2 separate regions of the Homo sapiens genome follow, and region 2 is linked to region 1. Evidence: fine-mapped expression QTL. Tissue or cell type: whole blood. Region 1 holds a variant in brackets; the other region holds the start of a gene. All regions are shown on one strand. Distances are from middle to middle.

Region 1 (10,855 bases):
GATTGTAGTTTCTTTTGCTGTGCAGAAGCTCTTTAGTTTAATTAGATCCCATTTGTCAATTTTGGCTTTTGTTGCCATTGCTTTTGGTGTTTTAGACATGAAGTCCTTGCCCATGCCTATGTCCTGAATAGTAATGCCTAGGTTTTTTCTAGGGTTTTTATGATTTTAGGTCTAACATTTAAGTCTTTAATCCATCTTGAATTGATTTTTGTATAAGGTGTAAGGAAGGGATCCAGTTTCAGCTTTCTACATATGGCTAGCCAGTTTTCCCAGCACCATTTATTAAATAGGGAATCCTTTCCCCATTGCTTGTTTTTCTCAGGTTTGTCAAAGATCAGATAGTTGTAGATATGCGGCGTTATTTCTGAGGGCTCTGTTCTGTTCCATTGATCTATATCTCTGTTTTGGTACCAGTACCATGCTGTTTTGGTTACTGTAGCCTTGTAGTATAGTTTGAAGTCAGGTAGCGTGATGCCTCCAGCTTTGATCTTTTGGCTTAGGATTGACTTGGCAATGCAGGCTCTTTTTTGGTTCCATATGAACTTTAAAGTAGTTTTTTCCAATTCTGTGAAGAAAGTCATTGGTAGTTTGATGGGGATGGCATTGAATCTATAAATTACCTTGGGCAGTATGGCCATTTTCACGATATTGATTCTTCCTACCCATGAGCATGGAATGTTCTTCCATTTGTTTGTATCCTCTTTTATTTCCTTGAGCAGTGGTTTGTAGTTCTCCTTGAAGAGGTCCTTCATGTCCCTTGTAAGTTGGATTCCTAGGTATTTTATTCTCTTTGAAGCAATTGTGAATGGGTGTTCACTCATGATTTGGCTCTCTGTTTGTCGTTATTGGTGTGTAAGAATGCTTGTGATTTTTGTACATTGATTTTGTATCCTGAGACTTTGCTGAAGTTGCTTATCAGCTTAAGGAGATTTTGGGCTGAGACAATGGGGTTTTCTAGATATACAATCATGTCGTCTGCAAACAGGGACAATTTGACTTCCTCTTTTCCTAATTGAATACCCTTTATTTCCTTCTCCTGCCTGATTGCCCTGGCCAGAACTTCCAACACTATGTTGAATAGTAGTGGTGAGAGAGGGCATCCCTGTCTTGTGCCAGTTTTCAAAGGGAATGCTTCCAGTTTTTGCCCATTCAGTATGATATTGGAAAGTCAACAAGGATACCCAGGAATTGAACTCAGCTCTGCACCAAGCGGACCTAATAGACATCTACAGAACTCTCCACCCCAAATCAACAGAATATACATTTTTTTCAGCACCACACCACACCTATTCCAAAATTGACCACATAGTTGGAAGTAAAGCTCTCCTCAGCAAATGTAAAAGAACAGAAATTATAACAAACTATCTCTCAGACCACAGTGCAATCAAACTAGAACTCAGGATTAAGAAACTCACTCAAAACCGCTCAACTACATGGAAACTGAACAACCTGCTCCTGAATGACTACTGGGTACATAATGAAATGAAGGCAGAAATAAAGATGTTCTTTGAAACCAATGAGAACAAAGACACAACATACCAGAATCTCTGGGACACATTCAAAGCAGTGTGTAGAGGGAAATTTATAGCACTAAATGCCCACAAGAGAAAGCAGGAAAGATCCAAAATTGACACCCTAACATCACAATTAAAAGAACTAGAAAAGCAAGAGCAAACACATTCAAAAGCTTGCAGAAGGCAAGAAATAACTAAAATCAGAGCAGAACTGAAGGAAATAGATGCAAAAAACCCTTCAAAAAATTAATGAATCCAGGAGCTGTTTTTTTGAAAGGATCAACAAAATTGATAGACCGCTAGCAAGACTAATAAAGAAAAAAAGAGAGAAGAATCAAATAGACGCAGTAAAAAATGATAAAGGGGATATCACCACCAATCCCACAGAAATACAAACTACCATCAGAGAATACTACAAACACCTCCATGCAAATAAACTGGAAAATCTAGAAGAAATGGATAAATTCCTAGACAAATACACTCTCCCAAGACTAAACCAGGAAGAAGTTGAATCTCTGAATAGGCCAATAACAGGAGCTGAAATTGTGGCAATAATCAATAGCTTACCAACGAAAAAGAGTCCAGGACCAGATGGATTCACAGCCGAATTCTACCAGAGGTACAAGGAGGAACTGGTACCTTCCTTCTGAAACTATTCCAATCAATAGAAAAAGAGGGAATCCTCCCTAACTCATTTTATGAGGCCAGCATCATCCTGATACCAAAGCCGGGCAGAGACAGAACTGAAAAAGAGAATTTTAAACCAATATCCTTGATGAACATTGATGCAAAAATCCTCAATAAAATACTGGCAAACCGAATCCAGCAGCACATCAAAAAGCTTATCCACCATGATCAAGTGGGCTTCATCCCTGGGATGCAAGGCTGGTTCAATATACGCAAATCAATAAATGTAATCCAGCATATAAACAGAACCAAAGACAAAAACCACATGATTATCTCAATAGATGCAGAAAAGGCCTTTGACAATATTCAACAACCCCTCATGCTAAAAACTCTCAATAAATTAGGTATTGATGGGACGTATCTCAAAATAATAAGAGCTATCTATGAGTCCTGTTTCTTTATCCAATTTGCCAGTCTGCCTTTGAAGTGAGGTGTTTAGCCTGTTTACATTCAAGGTTAATATTGATGTGTGCTGATTTGATCCTGTCATCATGTTCTTGGTTGTTAGGTAGACTTGATTGTGTAGTTGCTTTACAGTGTAAATAGTCTATGTACTTAAGTATGTTTTTGTGGTGGCCATTAGTGGTCTTTCACTTCCATATTTAGCACTCCCTTAAGCAACTCTTGTAAGGCGGGTCTAGTGGTAACTAATTCCCTTAGCATTTGCTTATCTGAAAAAGATTTTATTTCTCGTTCACTTATGAAGCTTAGTTTGGCTGGATATGAAATTCTTGCTTGGAATTTCTTTTCTTTAAGAATGCTGAATATAGGCCCCCAATCTCTTCTGACTTGTAGGGTTTCTGCTGAAAGGTCTATTGTTAATGTTGTGGGGTTCCCTTTATAGTTAACCTGCCCCTTCTTTCTAGCTGCCTTAACATAATTTCTTTTGCATTGACCTTGAAGAATCTGATGACTATGTGTCTTGGGGATGTTTGTCTTGTAAAGTAGCTCACAGAGGTTCTCTGAATTTCCTGAATTTGAATGTTGACTTATCTAGTGAGGTTGGAGACATTTTTGTGGATAATATCCTCAAATTTGTTTTCTATGTTGCTTGGTCTCTCTCTCTCTCTCTTTCAGGGGTGCCAATGTGTTGTAGGTTTGGTCTCTATACACAGTCCCACATTCCTCAAAGGTTTTGTTCATTTTAAAAATTCTTTGTTGTTTTATTTTTGTCTGACTAAAATAGTTTGAAATTAAAATAATTTGAAGAACTGTGCTTTGAGCTCTGAGATTCATTTCTCAGCTTGGTCTATTCCACTGTTAATACTTCTGATTGTGTCATGAAATTCTTTTAGTGAGTTTCTCAGCCCTATCAGATCAGTTTTGTTCTTTCTTAAAATACCTATTTTGCCTTTCACCTCTTGAATCACTTTACTGGATTTCTTAGATTCCTTGGATTGAGTTTCAATTTTCTCCTGAATCTCAATGATCTTCAATGCTATCCAGATTCTTAATTCTATGTCTGTCATTTTAGCCATTTCATTCTGGTTGAGAACCATCACTGGTGAAGCGGCATCATTGTCTGGGGTAAATAACCAAGGTTCATCATCTCATGCCAAGGAAATCAAGTATGCATATGCAAGAGGTAGGTTTAGGGGCGGAGGTTTAACAGGCAAAAGAAAGAAAAAGGAGAACACTTCTCTCTCCTGCTTTAGAGAGGGGTGCCCAAATGGGACTTCTGGCCCACAGTGGAGTGCTCAGGATTTTATAAAAAAGCTTGAGGAGGCGGTGTCTGATTTACATAGGACCCAAAGATTGATTAGACTAGGGTGACATTTACATAGCATGTGAGGAAGCTGGCTTCCCCACCCTAATCTTATTATGCAAATGGGATATTTGCCCTGTCAGCGCCATGTTGTCTTCGCCTTACTGTACATATGGTTTGGCAAAGAAAAGGAAAGAAGGAGCTGACATTTTGAACATGCCTAGTCCCCAGGTAGCTCCTTTCCTACTGGCATAGCTGCCATCACTTCCCCGTGCAAACTTCTAGCTTGCCTTTCTATGTCTGCAGCTCGATTTTACAGGTTGCTCTTTGTTAGAAAAGAAAATGATTTGGGGGCTGCTTTTCATTAAAAGGAAAACCTTACTAAAGACTTTCTTACCTCACTGTCTGCCTAAGTAATTTCTTTTTAACTCCTACATCATTGAGGAGCTAGTGTGGTCATTTGGGAATAAGAAAACACTCTGGCTTTTAGAGTTCCCTGCGTTTTTGCTCATCTGTGTGGGCTGATGTGCCTTTAACTGTGGTGTAATTTGAGTACAGTCAGTTGAATTTGTTTCTGGATGTTTTCAGAGGGCTGATGCTTTGTGCAGGGTCTTTATTTGTGGCTGAATTCTTGTCCTTAATTTTATGGGGAGGTATGTTAGCAATGTATTTTTGGTGTTAAAGTTTGGGCTTCCATCCAGTAGATGGCACTTAACCGTAATGGCTGGTAGATAGGCTCTTACCCAGCCACATGGTTCCTCTGTATTTCCTCAATTGCAGCTATGCTCTCTCTCAGTGCTCTGAGAGTGTGGGCCCCTCTCCCACTCAAGTGTTGGCCATATATCTCAGCTTGGCACTCCCAGGCTGTGCACTGTAGCCCCTTTGTGAACTCAAGCTTTTTGTTCTCTCCCTAGCTTGGGGGTGGCAGGGGTGGGGACCTTGACAGTGGCAATGGCAGAGGGCCTTTCACTTGTCTTTGAAGGATTCACCCCAGAGAAGCACAGAGCTGCTACCAATCAAAATGATCAGCTGGGGGTGGGGCAGCTGCATTGTGGGCCTCAAGCCAGGCGGCCCTTCCC[G/A]GTGAAGAGCTGGAGGATTGGAGGCTTGCTGTAAAATCAGTCTGGCCTCTTCTCCATAGAGCAGCTGTGGCATGGAGGTGTGAATAAAGCACTCGGGCTCTTTGTTCCTTGCCCAGTCTGGTGGCAGCAAGGGTGGGCATCCACTGCAGTGGCAGTTATAGGGGGCTGTCAGTTGCCTCGGGGAACTCCACCCCAGAAAGACATGGAGCTGCTGCCAATGAGAACATTCAGGTGGAAGTAGGATGGCTGTGCTGCAGGTCCAAGCCAGGGGATGAAGAGCAGAGAGGTCAGGGGCTCACCAGGAAGACAGACTGGACTCCTTTGAATATGGTGGCTTCAGTGTGCTGGAGGTACAAGCAAAACAATCAGTGTCTTCATTCACTCCACAGCACAGTTTGTTTAAAATAATAATAGCAACTATGCATTCAATTATGTATACTTATGTGTATATCTTATGCATATATGTCTATCTGTGCTTATATATGCTTACATACAAGTAAAATGAATGACAGCAGTGATACAAGGGATAGAAGGGAGGAGTTTGAATTATTTTGTTATTATAAGGTACCTGCACTAGCTGTGAAATAGTACAGTGTTTTTGGAAGTTGCCTTGAAATAGTTATACATGTATATTGCAAACTCTAAGGCAACCACTAAAATAAGTGAAAAAAGGCATAACTGATATGCTAAGAGAGGAGAGAATATGGAAACATATAAAGTGTTCAATTAAAACCACAAAAGGCAGAGAAAGAGTGAAAGACAAAATAAGAACAAAGAACCAAAAACAACAAATAGAAAACACTAAATATGGTAAATATTAATTCAACTATATCAATAATCACTTTCAATGTCAATGGTATAAAATAACCAGTTGAAAGACAGAGATTGGCAGAGTGGATGAAAAAAAAATGACACAACTACATGTTGTCTACAAGAAACCCACTTTAAATATAATGACACATAGATTAAAAGTAGATGGATGGGCCAGGTGTGGTGGCTCACACCAGTAATCCCAGCACTTTTGGAGGCCAAGACAGGGGGACTGCTTGAGTTCAGGAGTTCGAGACCAGCCTGGGCAACATAGTGAGACCTTGTCTCCATTAAAAAAAAAAAAAAACAAAAAAAACCTGCATGTGGTGGGATGTGCCTGTAGTCCCAGCTACTTAAAAGGCTGAGGCAGGAGAATCACTTGAGCCCAGGAGGTTGAGGCTGCAGTGAGCCATGATCACTCCAGCTTGGGTAACAGAGCAAAAACTTGCCAAAAAAAAAAAAAAAAAGAGAGAGAGAGAGAAAGAAAGGGAAGGGATGGAAAGGAAAGGGAAGCGAAGGGAAGGGAAGGGAAAAGGAGAAATATGCCATACTAACACTAATGAAAACAAAGCAGGAATCACTGTATTAATTTCAGGCACAATGGACTTCAAAACAAGGAAAGTTAGGAAGGGTAAAGAAGGACATTACTTAATAATAAAGAAATCAATTACCCAAAAAGACAGAACAATCCTTAACATGTATGTGCCTAACAGAGTAAAAATACATGAGGCAAAAACTAATTATGCTGGAAGGAGAAATAGGTTAATCTACCATTATGGAGGAAGATTTCAGTACCTCCTATCAGAAATGAACAGATCCAGCAGGCACAAAATCAGCAAGGACATAGTTTTACTCAACAGCAACATCAATCATCTGGACATCTGTAACTCTCTACAACAACAGCCGAATATACTTTCTTCTCAAGCTCATGTGAAATATTAACCAAAATAGACCACATTCTTGGCCATAAAGCACATTTTAAGAGATCAAAGATAATAGAAATGTCATGTAATATCTGGTGTATATCACAGTGAAATTAAACTAGAAATCAATAACAGAAAGATAATTGGAAAATCCTAAACTACATGGAAATCAAACAAAATTAAATAACACATGAGTCAAAAGAGAAATTTCAAAAGAAATTTAAAAATTTTTGAACTAAATTGAAATGAAAACACAACTTATAAATGTTTGAGGGGTGCAGGAGAAGCAGTTCTTAAAGGGAAATTTATAGCATTGAATGCATATATTAGAAAAGAAGGGAGATCTAATATCAATCATCTAAGCTTCTATCTTAGGAAACTAGAAAAGGAAGAGCAAATTAAATTCAAGGTAATCAGAAAAAAAGAAATAATGAAAATTACAACATAAATCAACACAGTTGAAGATAGGAAATTAACAGGAAAAAATCAATGAAACCCAATGCTCGTTCTCTGAAAAGACCTAGAAAATAGGTAAGATTCTAGCTAGGTCAATCAAAAAAAAAAATTCTTCATATCAGAAGTGAAAGAGGAGACATCACTGGAGATCCCATAGACAATAAAAGGATAATCAAGAAATATTATAATCAACTGCATGAACACAAATTTGATAAGGTAGACGAAAGGGACCAAGTCCTTGAAAGACACAATCTGACAAAGCAAGAAGAAAGAGGCAATCTAAATAGGACTATATCTATTAAAGAAATTGAATCAATAATTAATAATATTTCAAAACAGAGAGCACCAGGCCCAGATGGGTTCACTGTTAAATTTTACCATACATTTAAGGAAGAAATTATACCAATCCTCTACAATCTCTTCCAGAATATAGAAACAGAGGGAATACTTCCTAACTCATTGTATGAGGTCAACATCACCATAATAGTCAAACCAGACAAAGGCACTGCAAGAAAACAGAACTACAGACCAATATCTCTTATGATCATAGACGCAAAAGTCCTCAGCAGAATATTAACAAATCAAATCCAGCAATGAATAACAAGAATTATATATCACACCCATAGTGAGATTTATCCCTGGTGGGCAACTGGTTCGACATTCAAAAATTAATTAATGTAATTCATCACATCAGCAATCTAAAGAAGAAAAATCACATGATGATATCAATGGATACATAAAAATCATTATAAATTTCAAGATGCTTTCACAATAAAGCTGTCAGTAAACTAGGAATAGAGGACACTAGATAAGGAATATTGAAGGGTGACATAACACGCCACCTCAAAATATGCCACTTTGACATAGTATTACTTCAGACTAAAGGCACTTAAAAAACATCATTTGCAAGAAGGCATTCTAATCTTCCCCTTTTCTTCCTGAAAACAGAAGAGAAAAACTCATAGGGAAGATGCCCCCTCTATAGCAGGAGAAAAGAAACATCCTTCAATAGAGAATCATATCCAGAGAATTCTGGGCAAACAAATCCTGTTAAAATAATTCTACCTTTTCTACCTTCCATTAGCCTCCCCATATAATTTAGTTACTTTTCCATGACTACCTCTCTTTGTTCAACCTAATATAAAAGCATACAAACTCGCCACTTCTTTGGATCATCATTTCCTTATGAGGACTCCATATCATGTAAAATTTAAATTCAATTTGTATGCTTCTCTCCCATTACTCTCTTAAGTCAATTTAATTCTCAGGCTTAACTGGGACTTTACAAGGGTAGAGGTAAAATTTTGCCTCCCCTACAATATTTATCAAAAAACTGACAGCTAACATTACACGTAACGATAAGAAATGAGAAACTTTCCCACTAAGATTGTGAACACGGCAAGGATGGTCTTCTTACCACTTCTTTTCAGTATCATACTGGAAGTCCTAGCTAACCAAATAAACGAAGTTTTTTTTTAAAGCATACTGACGGGCAAGGAGAAATAAAAACCATCTTTGTTCACAAATGACAGTCATCTATGTAGAAAGTCAGAAAGAACAAACCAGATAATAAAACCTCCTAAAACTAATAAGCACAGCAAGGCTGCAGGATGCATGGGTATTATACAAAAGTCAATCTGTTTTCTATATACCAGTAATGAAAGGTGGAATTTTAAATTAAAAACGCAATAACATTTACATTTGTGCCCCCCAAAATGATACACTTTTGTGTAAATCTAACAAAATATGTGCAAGATCTACATGAGGAAAGCTGATGAAAGAAATCAAAGAGGAGCCCAGTAAATGAAGAGATATTCTGTGTTTACGGAGAGGCAGACTCAATATTGTCAGGACATCAGTTCTTCCTAACTTGATTTATAGGATCAACACAATCCCAATTAAAATTCCAGCAAGTTATTTTGTGGATATCAACAAAGTTATTCTAAGATTTATGTGGAAAGGCAAAAGACCCAGAATAGCCAGCACAATGAAGGAGAAGCACAAAATTGGAGGATGAAGAGTGCCTGACTTTAAGACATATTACAAAGCTATAGTAATTAAGTTTGTGTGGTACTGGCAAAAGTATAGGCAAACAGATCAATGAAAAAGAGAGGCCAGAAATAGACCCACATAAATAGAGTCAATTGATCTTTGACAAAGAAGAAAATGCAATGCAATGAAGAAATGCTAGCCTTTTCAACAAATGTTGCTGAAACAATTGGACATCCACATGCAAAAAATATGAATCTAGATTCAGATTTCACACCCTTCGCAAAAGCTAATTCAAAATGGATCACATACGTAAATGTAAAACACAAAAGTTTAAAACTACCAGAAGATAACATAGGAAAAAATCTACATTACCCTGGGTTTGGTGACTACTTTTTAAAGACAGCACCAAAGTCAGAATCCATAAAAGAAAGAAAGCTAGAATAGATAAATAGAAAGAAAAGTAGATGATTGATAGCTAGCTAGATATAATGGGTTAAACAAATTATATTATTATTATTGTGGATTTTGCCTCTTCCTTTTAAAATTTTTAATATGGTAAGTAGAAAATTTTAAATAATACATGTGGCAATTATCTATTTTTATGTAACAAATAATCCTAGAATCTAGTGGTTTAAAGCAACGATTTCTCTCATAATTGTGTGGATCAGGAATTTAGGCAGTATTGAGTGGGCAATTCTTCTGCGCCATGTTGTGTGGGCTGAGGTCAGATAGTGGTATTCCCATGGCAGATAGGTTGTTCTGGAGGGCCCAAGACAGCTTCTTCGTTTACGTGCCTGGTGCCTTCACTGGAAGTCTGGCTATATCTGGGCACATCTCCATGTATCTCCATGTAATCTCAGGCATCTCTAGATGTTCTGCAGCATGCAAGTCAGACTTCTTTCATGGAGTTCAGGCTCCAAGAACCCATGCTTCAAGAGACAGGAAGCGGAGGTTGCTAGTTTCTTAAAACCTGCAGCTGAGAATTGGCACAGCACCACTTTCCTTGTGTTCTATTGGTTGAAGCAATAACAAATTCCACCCATAGTAAATTATAGGAGATATAAATTCCACCTCTCAATTGGAGCAGTTTCAAAGAATTTGTGCCCATTTTCAATTTATCAACTTAATCCAGTGCAGTGGTTCTCAGATTTTAGCCTGCATCAAAATCACCTGGAGGGCTTGTTGAACCTCTAACCCACACCCAGAATTTCTGAATCAGTGGGTCTCAGGTGGAGCTCCACTGATTTTTCCTTCTTAGAATTTTCACTTCTAACAAGGTCATAGGTGCTACTGCTGCTGGTAGTGATGGTCCAGGGCCACATATGGAGAACCAATGGTCCAGATTTCAACATGACTAACAGAGCAATTCTTACCCACTCTTCAACTGACCCCCTTGCAATCTTTACTCTAAATGAGCCCAGTGTATCTCCATGTACATTATATGCTCATACCCCTACTTTTCAGGCATAGAAGTAAAACTTCTAATACAGTACCAGGCACAGTTCTTATTGACTCAAACAACAGGCAAGGATATATTTTTATCATCAGCAACTGGAATAAGCAGAGACTAAGAAGCAGGTTGTAAATGTCAGACACTAGTGTCTTATGTGGCAGCATTCTATAGGTGTAAATAACTTACTATATTCGTTATCTATTGCTGCATAATACGTTACTCCAAGACATGAGGAC
Region 2 (10,855 bases), 46 kb before region 1:
GAAGATGTAGAAGAGCCAGTGCCAGAAAACAAACTGACATTAGAACATCTGGCAGAAGAATTCCAGTTATTCAAGACTGCTTTTGACTTCATTTATGACATGGACCCTTCTATGATATGGGCACTGAAACCAAAGCAAATGGTGGAAGAAGGATTGGTACCACATAGAAACATTTTTAGAGCAATGAAAAAGCAAAAACGTCAGACAGAAATTACCACGTATTTCCATAAAATTACATCCACTATGCCTGCTTCTCCTGCCTCCCCTTCCACTTCCTCCACCTCTTCTGCTTCTGCCACCCCTGAGACGTCAATACCAACTCCTCTTCCTTCGTCTCCTCCTCAACCTACTCAATGTTAAGATGATGAGGATGAAGAATTTTATGGTAATCCACTTCCACTTAATGCATAGTAAATATATTTTGTTTTCCTTATAATTTTCTTAATACTATTTTCTTTCCTCTAGCTTACTTTATTGCAAGAATATAGTATATAATACACATAACATACAGAATATGTATCAATCGACTGTTTATGTTACCCATAAGGTTTCCAGTCAACAGTAGGTTATTAGTAGTTAAGCTTTTGGTGGAGTCAAAAGTCATATATGAATTTTTTACTACGTGGGGGGTTAGCACCCCTAACTCCAGCATTGGTAAGGGTCAACTCTATTTAGAAGTAATTCAGGTATTATAATTATAATGTTTATATTATAATACATAAATTATTAAGGATTAAATAATTTAATAATAATATAACAGTAACTATAATAAACACTATTAACTAAATTTTTATATGCCTCTCTCTATATATATAAAATATTTAATGTTCCTCTTTTAAAAAGGCACACAGCAGAAAAAAATTGTATACTGACCATTCAGCTCAGGGCAATTTTAATAGGAAATAACCTCATACATTTTAATTTTGGACCTACATGTTCAAGTTCTTCCTTGATTAACAGCAGAAAACAATATGTCCGGCAGAGGGCATCCCTCCATTGCTGCTCACAATGGAGGTTTGGAGATATAATTTTCTTTCACCTTTATGGGCAGGTCACCAGAATCTGGAACCCCTAGTCTATGTGAACGTCTACTGCCACTTTCCTAATGCCAACTGCCAGGATTCACAAGAATTTCCTGATCCTCAATTCCCTGTGATCCATCTGTCAGCTGTTAGACACTTGTGATACTGTATTTTAACTTCTATCAACCCCTTTCCAACTGCATGTGGCAATCTCCTTTAGGCTCTATTCTCTGGTCTTCTAACTTGATTTTTCTTCTCTGTGAAGAATCAAGTCTAGAATAATTTCCTAGCTCCTTTCTGGTGGTTGTGATTCTCCAGAGTGAAACAGGTTGTTACAGAATCTCGTCTTTAAAAAAACTACAATGACAAGAGAATGAAAAAACCAGCCACAGACTGGGATAAACTATTTGCAAAAGTAATACCTGATAAAAGACTGTTATTCAAAATACACAGAATACTTGAAACTCAACAATAAGAGAACAAACAACCCAATTAAAAAAATAAGCCAAAATCCTTAGCAGACACCTCCTCAAAGAAGATATACAGATGGCAAATAAGTATATATAAAGATGCTCCACCTCACATAATCTTGGGAAACGCAAACTAAAACTACAAAGTGATTCCACTACACACTTATTAGGATGACCAAAATCCAGAGAACAGATGCTGGTGAGAATGTGGACCAACAGAAACTCTCATTCATTGTTGGTAAGAATGCAAAATGGTACAGCTGCTTAGGAAGATTTGGTGGTTTCTTACAAAATAAAACATATCATTACCACATGATCCAGCAATCTTACTCCTTGGTATTTACCCAAATGAGTTGAAAGTGTAGTATGTTCATACAAAAACCTAAGCATGGATGCTTATAGCAGCCTTTTCCTAACTGCTAAAAGTTGGAAGCAACCAAGATGTTCTTCAGCAGGTGAATGGATAAATAAACCCTGGTATATCCAGATAATGAAGTATTATTTGACACTAAAAAGAAATGAGCTATCAAATCATTAAAAGACATGGCGCATATCACTAAGTAAAAGAAGCCAATCTGAAAAGGCTCCACACTATGTGATTCTAACTATATGACATTCTGGAAAAGGGAAAACTATGGAGGTAGTCAAAAGATTGGTGGTTGCCAGAGGTTATGAGGTAGGGAGAGATGAACAGATTACAGAGGATTTTGCTGGGAATGAAACTATACTATATGATGCCATAATATAGTAAGTACATGTCATTACACATTTGTTAAACTCCCTAAAATGTACAACACCGAGAATGAACTTTAATGTAAACTACGGCTTTTGGTAAATAATGATGTGCCAGTGTAGGCTAATCCGTTGTAACAATGTACCACTCTGATGTGGGATTTTGATGGTGGAAAAGGCTATGAGAGTGTGGGGATAGGGGATATATGAGAACTCTTTACTTCCTGGTAAATTTTGCTATGAGCCTAAAACTGCTCTAAAAATAACATCTATATAAAGACATTTTTTAAAAAATTAAAGGAATGAAAACCTTACAAAGTCCTTATTTCAGAAGACAAAAAAAAAAAGTCAATTCCTTCACCAGGACAACAGGATTTAACTACTGTAGACAGCCACTTACTCTCTTGAATAGAAAAATAATAAGAGGTGAGTGTCTAGGCTTTAAACTGCTTATTCATCATCTTGAACTAAGGAAAATAAGTCCTATGGAAAATGCATTTAAAGAAGGGGATGGATAGTGAAATACAAGGTCAGTAGGCAAACCCATTCCAATGTTTGGGTTGAAAGGGGCCATGAAAGACCTGTAACTGGGAGAACATGAGTGGGTTGTGGTTGCATGTCTGCATTAGGAACTATGTATTTCAGAGATAAGGAGTAAAGATCTGTTATCATCTGTTATCTGCTCCTGTATCTTAAGTCTAGTTGGTTTGGGAGCTTTTCTATATAATATAAATATATTATATAAGCCACACATATAAATTCTCCAGTAGGGACATTTAAAAACAAAAAAAGGTGAAAATAATGTGATAATAAATTTTACTTAACCCGATACATCCAAAATATTATCATTTCAACATGTAATCAATGTATAAAATTATTGATGGCATATTTCACTTTCTTTTTCCATATTAAATTTTTAAAATCTAATGTGTCTCTTACACTTGAGTATGTCTTAATTCATATGCTAAATGTTAATCAGAAATAATTAATCCTTAATTAGCTTTAATAACATTTACAGTTAAGTAGTAGATTCACATACTCAAGTTATCCCAGATTTTAAAAGTTTTACAATAACTCAATGGAGTATCAGTTTGAAAATCCAGATTTAAATTCATTAAAATTAAAAATTGAGCTCCTCAGTTGGACCAGCTACATTGCAAGAGCTCCATAGTCACTTATGCCTAGTAGCTACCATGTTGGACAACGAAATTCTAATTAGTTGATCATTTTATGTGAATAGATTGAAAAAACAGTACAATTCAGTAAAATGTGTTTGGCTATAATATTTTAATCCCTTATTGCAAGTAGGTAGCAAATAAATGAGGAAAAATCATTGCCACTGGAAAATATGGTAACTGGGTTAATGCCAGGGCACTACTCAATGATACCCAGTAAACAGCTTTTGTAGCCCTTATTCTAAAGGACACACACTGAACATGTGGTCAGGTGAAAGGAAACAGAACAATAGATGTGTCCATTATTACACTTTTCTGACTTTCACAGTCATGGTAAATAGCCTCGACGTTATAAGAATGGGATAAAAATCATATTCATTCTCAGATCTAGTAGAATTAAATATATAGTAAAACTGCCAAGTAAAGACTATCTATTTTGAAGAACTGACAGGTTGTTTAAATTAAGACAATACTTAAAGTATTAGAGGATACTTAAAAACTTAATATAATGTGAAAACAGTGGTTTAATGAAAACAAAATTCTTACGACAGCAAAATGCAGAATTTCGTCTTCGTTCAGTTCATTTTTCAATTTTCTGAATAAAGGTTGCATTGCTCTGCAAGGTCCACACCAGGCTTGGTAAACATCAATCACTAGAAGATGATGATATTTATGAAATAACAAAGTCTACCAATCTAGGATAGCAGTTATCCCAATCTGGAGCCATGGCCAGGGCAAAGGCACTGCAGGATTTCTTGGTCAAAGTGGGGACTCTAGAGGGACAGGGTGCCAGGAGGAGCTCCGGGTCAAACCCCAGGTGGCCAGACAGCCGGGGAGTCCTTATACCTGTTAAGCCTTTGTTCTGCAACATCTCATCCCACAGGCTTTGATTATTGATGACTGTCTGCAAAGTGGAAGGCACTGTAAAAGGTATTCAAGCACTAGTGCACCAGATAAAGAATTGTTGATATGTCAGACCCACCTGTAACTGGACTTCTCGTTTTTTGCTTGCCATTTATCTACTATCATAGGAAAAAGAAAGAAAAATTTTTAAGTAGGAAATTTAAATAACATTTTCTTTATGCATGCAAATAACATCTTTTAAAACAATTTTTAATTTTTGTGGGTACATAGTAGGTGTATATATTTATGTATCTCTGTATTTATGTACTTAAATATTTGTGTATTTAAATCTGAGATATTTTGATACAGGCATGCCATGCATAATAATCACATCAGGGTAAATGGGGTATCCATCACCTCAAGCATTTATCCTTTGTGTTACAAACAATCCAATTATACTCTTTTAGTTATTTTAAAATGTACAATTTAGATTTTTTGACTGCAGTCACCTGTTTGTGCTAGCAAATACTAGGTCTTATTCATTGTTCTTTTTTTTTTTTTTTTTTTTTGAGACATAGTCTCACTCTGTTGCCAGACTGGAGTGCAGTGGCACAATCTGGGCTCACTGCAACCTCCGTCTCCTGGGTTCAAGCGATTCTCCTGCCTCAGCCTCCAGAGTACCTGTGACTACAGGCACCCGCCACCACGGCGGGCTAATTTTTTTTGTATTTTTAGTAGATACAGAATTTCACCGTGTTAACCAGGATGGTCTCAACCTCCTGACCCGTGATCCTCCCACCTCAGCCTCCCAGAGTGCTGGGATTACAGTATTCATTCTTTCTAACTGCAAATAACATCTTAATGTACTAGTGAAAAATTTCCCCACTGTACATTGGATTATGCAGTGTCATCTTTGCTGGGGAGAGAGAAGCTAATGTCATGGAAGGACTATTGTATGCTAGGCTCTATGCTAAATGCTTATAGCTGCCACACTATCTTATCCTCCCAACAGTCCTGAAGCAAGGTAAGAATGTTAGGAGTTACACGTCGTCTGGTTTTTTTAAAGGTTTTGTTTTCCTGAAATATTAGAAAGTGTTTCCTATATTATCAATTGCAAACAAATGAACATGCCCGTGGATCTTTCTGGGGTCCCTCTTCAGATCTGGCTGCTCTAAGGATATTTAATCTTGAGAACAAGGCCACTAGTGTTTTCTGGGGCACGACATAAACTTCTCAAACTCCCTATTCAGTGGTATCAGGGGCGGTGTAGAACAGGGGTCAGTCAGCGTGCGGGCGATAGTGCACGCTAGCGTACAACAAAGGAAAAGCCACAAACAAGACTGTATTCCAGGAAAGGTGCTGGTTGCTCCGGCAAGCCTTACACAAAACAGGTCCTCCTCTAAGCTAGACTGGGACGTTTAAAGAAAAGGAAGGAACAGGCCCAGAGGATCTAAATCGGCTCCCTCGTTGTGGCCGTTTGAGCGGTGACCTCGGCGAAGTTCCATTCCAGTACCTAGGACCCTGGTAGGGCCCGAGGCTGAGGCTAGCAGGCCTCCTGCTGGGCTTTCTTCTCCAGCTGATTCAGCAAAAGGAAGAAGAGGGATTCCCTGCCTGTCTGGGAAGAAGAAGGGGGGCAATGTTTTGTCCAACCCATCTGCCCGTGAGACTTGAGCGGCGTCTCGAGGCCCCTGCTCCAGACAGCAGCTATACCTGGGCAGTGGGGACAAGACCAGGTGGCGCCTAAAATCCTCCACCTCTTCTGCCCACACAATGAAGGAACAACGAAGTCCTGGTTCCACCATCACAAGACTCTGTTCTTCAGCTGCCTCATCCCCAAACTCCCATCCCCCATCCTCCCATCCCTACGTTCCTCTATCCCCAGATGCGCACCAAGGTGCGCTTTCCCAAGTGCAGATTTGATCATATCTCTCCTCGCCTTTGAATCCTCCTGTGACTGGCCACGCTTTACAGCATAAAATGCATACACCTCAAATCGGAGCAGAAGGCTCTCTGCCAGCACCAGCCTTTTCTTTCTTTTTAACTTTGTCTTCATCTACCCTGGTTTGGTTCTTCTTGTTCTTCTTGTTCTTCTTCTTCTTCTTCTTCTTCTTCTTCTTCTTCTTCTTCTTCTTCTTCTTCTTCTTCTTCTTCTTGTTCTTCTTCTTCTTCTTCTTCTTCTTCTTCTTCTTCTTCCTTCTTCTTCTTCTTCTTCTTCTTCTTCTTCTTCTTCTTCTTCTTCTCTTCTTCTTCTTCTTCTTCTTCTTTCTTCTCTCTTCCTCTTCCTCTTCTTCTTCGTCTTCCTTCTTCTTTTCTTCTTCTTTTCTTCTTCTTCTTCTTTTCTTCTTCTTTTCTTCTTCTTCTTTCTTCTTCTTCCTTCTTCTTTTTCTTCTTCTTCTTTCTCTTCTTCTTCCTCTTCCTCTTCCTCTTCTTCCTCTCCCTCTTCCTCCTCCTCCTCCTCTTCCTCCTCTTCCTCCTCCTCCTCCTCCTCTTCTTCCTCCTCTTCCTCTTCTTCTTCTTCCTCTTCTTCTTCCTCTTCCTCTTCTTCCTCTTCCTCTTCCTCTTCTTTCTTCTTCTTCCTCTTCTTTCTTCTTCTTCTTCCTCTTCTTCTTCTTCTCCTTCTTTCTTCTTCTTCTTCCTCTTCCTCTTCTTCTCCTCCTCCTTCTCCTTCTCCTTCCTCTTCTCCTTCCTCTTCTCCTTCCACTTCTCCTTCCTCTTCTCCTTCCCCTTCCCCTCCTTCTCCTCCTCCTCCTCCGTCTCCTCCGTCTCCTCCATCTCCTTCATCTCCTTCTTCTTCTTCTTCTTCTCCTTCTCCTTCTCCTTCCTCTTCTCCTTCCTCTTCCCCTCCTTCTCCTCCTCCTCCGTCTCCTCCATCTCCTTCTCCTTCTCCTTCTTCTTTCTCCTTCTTCTTCTTCTTTCTTCTTCTTCTTTCTTCTTCTTCCTCTTCCTCTTCCTCTTCTTCTCCTCCTCCTCCTTCTCCTTCCTCTTCTCCTTCCACTTCTCCTTCCTCTTCTCCTTCCTCTTCTCCTTCCTCTTCCCCTCCTTCTCCTCCTCCTCCTCTGTCTCCTCTGTCTCCTCCGTCTCCTCCGTGTCCTTCGTCTCCTTCGTCTTCTTCTTCTTCTCCTTCTCCTTCCTCTTCTCCTTCCTCTTCTCCTTCCTCTTCCCCTCCTTCTCCTCCTCCTCCTCCGTCTCCTCCGTCTCCTCCGTCTCCTCCGTCTCCTTCTTCTTCTTCTTCTTCTTCTTCTTCTTCTTCTTCCTCTTCTTCTTCCTCTTCTTCTTCTTCCTCTTCTTTTTCTTTCTTTCTCTTTCGTTCTTTTTCTCTTTACTTTCCTTCCTCCCTCCCACTTGCAGCATCTGGAAATAATTTTTCACAATAGTTTCTGATTAATCCACAGGCTGAGATACAGAAAGCAACTGTAGAGTAGAGAGGGACACAATGAACCTTTTTGTAGGGATCCTCATCCCTGGAGTGGACCTAATAGATGAGCACGGCTACCTACAGAAGGATTTTTGACCAGGATCATATCCTATCAAGACAGGACATGTAGTACTCCTTCACTTCACCATCTGCAATTTTCTTTCCTTTTTTTTTTTTTATTATACTTTAAGTTCTGTGATACATGTGCAGAAAGTGCAGGTTTGTTACATAGATATACACATACCATGGTGGTTTGCTGCACCCATCAACCTGTCATCTACATTAGGTATTTCCCCTAATGCTATCCCTCCCCTAGCCCCCCACCCCCTGACAGGCCCCAGTGTGTGATGTTTCCCTCCCTATGCCCACGTGTTCTCATTGTTTAACTTCCACTTATGAGTGAGAACATGCGGTGTTTGGTTTTCTGTTCTTGTGTTAGTTTGCTGAGAATGATGGTTTCCAGCTTCATCCATGTCCCTGCAAAAAACATGAACTCGTCGTTTTTTATGGCTACATAGTATTCCATGGTATATATGTGCCACATTTTCTTTATCCAATCTATCGTTGATGGGCATTTGGGTTGGTTCCAAGTCTTTGCTATTGTGAATAGTGCTCCAATAAACATACATGTGCATGTGTCTTTATAATAGAATGATTTATAATCCTTTGGATATATACCCAGTACTGGGATTGCTGGGTCAAATGGTAACAAAAGCCAAAATTGACAAATGGGATCTAATTAAAGAGCCTCTGCACAGCCAAAGAAACTATCATCAGAGTAAACAGGCAACCTAGAGAATGGGGGAAAATTCTTGCAATCCATCTATCTGACAAAGGGCTAATATCCAGAATCTACAAGGAACTTAAACAAATTTACAAGAAAAAAACAAACAGCCCCATCCAAAAGTGGGCAAAGGATATGAACAGACACTTCTCAAAAGAAGATATTTGTGAGGCCAACAAACACATGAACAAAAGTTTTTCATCACTGGTCATTAGAGAAATGCAAATCGAAACCACAATGAGATACCATCTCACACTAGTTAGAATGGCGATCATTAAAAATAGTCAGGAAACAACAGATGCTGGAGAGGATGTGGAGAAATAGGAACGCTTTTACACGGTTGGTGGGAGTGTAATTATTTCAACCATTGTGGAAGACAGTGTGGCGATTCCTCAAGGGTCTAAAACCATCTGCTATTTTCAAAGAAGTTTTATGTATTTCCTATAATTGCTATTTCACCAGAGTCAGACTGTTAGTAAACTGACTTTTGATTCTTCTTTGATTCAACACAATAGTTCACATGGTGAAATGCTCATGCAAATATTTCAGGCAAATTCTTCATATAACACTTTGATGCAAGAAGTTTCAATGTATTCTCAAATTAGAACAAACATTTACCAGTGGCCAATACATGGAAGGAAGGTGTAATTAGTTTTTTTTGTTTTTTTGTTTTTTTACATCATTACTACTAATTGCAAAAACTTTGAATGTTGAGGCTTTAAAACATAAACCTGAAGAGCCTTTGACTTGGGTCTGCCCAGAATTGACTTTAAGGGCAAATTCTCTGAAAATGTTGGTTACAAGACAATGTATATTTTATTATAGGAGAGTGTAAGCTATAACTGCCAAAAAGCCTATGAGAGATGTTACTTTTGAAGGGACCTAATAGTTTGTTTTGCTCCTTAAATATATTTGACTTTATCTTTCAACATTCATTAAAGGTACTCTCTTATATTGACCTGCCTTTTCTTACCCTCACACAGCACTATGTATAGTGCTCAATTTGCTTTCCTTGGGGCACAAGTTTATTAGTGCCTAATTGTTTCATTTGTGTGTTCTCATGACTTCTAAATATATATGAAGACCCAGAAAATAAGAACTGGATTGTAGAATTGTTTTCGCTTTGCTCTCTTCCTCTTGAAATCCTCTCTGGCACCTAGCATCACCATTTTTGCATAAACACTTTAAAATTAGATAGCAAGCTAGTGCATTTGGAAATAGCAGATATTCTTGACACATTTATGTACTCTTTAATGAAGATAAACAAAATTCTTAATTTTTGAATCCAAGAAATCTGTCTGGTGATTTCTCAAAGAATTTAAAATGGAGAGAGCTACAATTTGACCCAGCAATCTTATTGGATATACACCCAAAGGAAAGTAAATTACTCTACCAAAAAGACAATGCATTCATATGTTCATCACTGAGCTATTCACAATAGCAAAGACATGGAATCAATCCAGGTGCTCATCAATGGTACACTGGATAAAGAAAATGTGTATATAAACATATACACCATGGAATACTACGCAGCCATTAAAAAGAATGAAATCATATCCTTTGCAGCAACATGGATGCAATTAGAGGTTATAGTCTTAAATGAATTAATGTGGGAACAGAAAACCAAATACTGCATGTTGTTCCTTGTAAGTGGAAGCTAAACACTGAGCACACATGGACATAAATATTGGAACAATAGACCTGCAGATTACTATAAGTGGGAGACAACGAGGGAGACGTGGGTTGAAAAACTACTTACCAAGTACTATGCTCATTACCTGAGTGATGGGATTTGTACCCAAAACCTCAGCATCATGCAATATTCTCATGCAATAAATCTGCACGTGTACCCCTCATTTCTAAAATAAAAGTTGAAAAATATTTTTAAAGTTTAATAAAATAAAGACACAATGCTTAAAAAAAGAAGAAATCTGGTCCAGGTAATTAAGTAGACTATAAAGAAAATAAATGGTATAGGGACTTACTTTAATTTTATCACTTCAGCTAGAGATAGAAGTAAGCTAGTCATCTATCCAGGAGAACTTTATATAACTTTTAAAAAATTTCTCCTATCTCCACTAGATCAAAATCACGGATTCTGAATTCCAATTTTAAAAGTCACCTGCATAATAATACTAAATTACATATTCTCTTTTCCCATTGTATATGAAATTAAGGCACTGAGAATAATAAAAACTCATAATAATAAAACAGAATGGGTGAACCTATTACAACTGCAACCTGTTGGGAACTGCAAGATTGATGGGTTTGGATTGAGATAAACATTTTGTGCAGTTTCTATATCCGAGCAAATCTGCCAGCCTGAAACTAATCAGAAAGAGGCTTTGGACCTCCCTGTCTGCTTTCTGGCTCAGAGACTCAGCGAGTTGCAATAAACCAAAACAGTAGCCATC

What was found. PIP is the estimated chance that this variant, and not a neighbour inherited with it, causes the effect.
Region 2: it holds the start of NME8, and the variant in region 1 is fine-mapped to the expression of NME8 in whole blood (TOPMed, PIP above 0.99).

What each region holds. Positions count from the first base shown.
Region 1 is chr7:37,798,269-37,809,123 of GRCh38, reverse strand. No RefSeq gene overlaps it. Among named protein-coding and RNA genes, the nearest start is that of NME8, 45 kb to the left of the region's middle. RefSeq lists an enhancer at 5,014-5,514. The variant G/A (reference allele first, on the strand shown) is at 4,986.
Region 2 is chr7:37,843,826-37,854,680 of GRCh38, reverse strand. It overlaps NME8 (NME/NM23 family member 8), which reads right to left and starts at 6,084. Exons shown (of 18, transcript NM_016616.5): 1 at 5,953-6,084; 2 at 5,625-5,857; 3 at 4,382-4,421; 4 at 4,246-4,303; 5 at 3,946-4,052. The coding sequence starts at 4,414.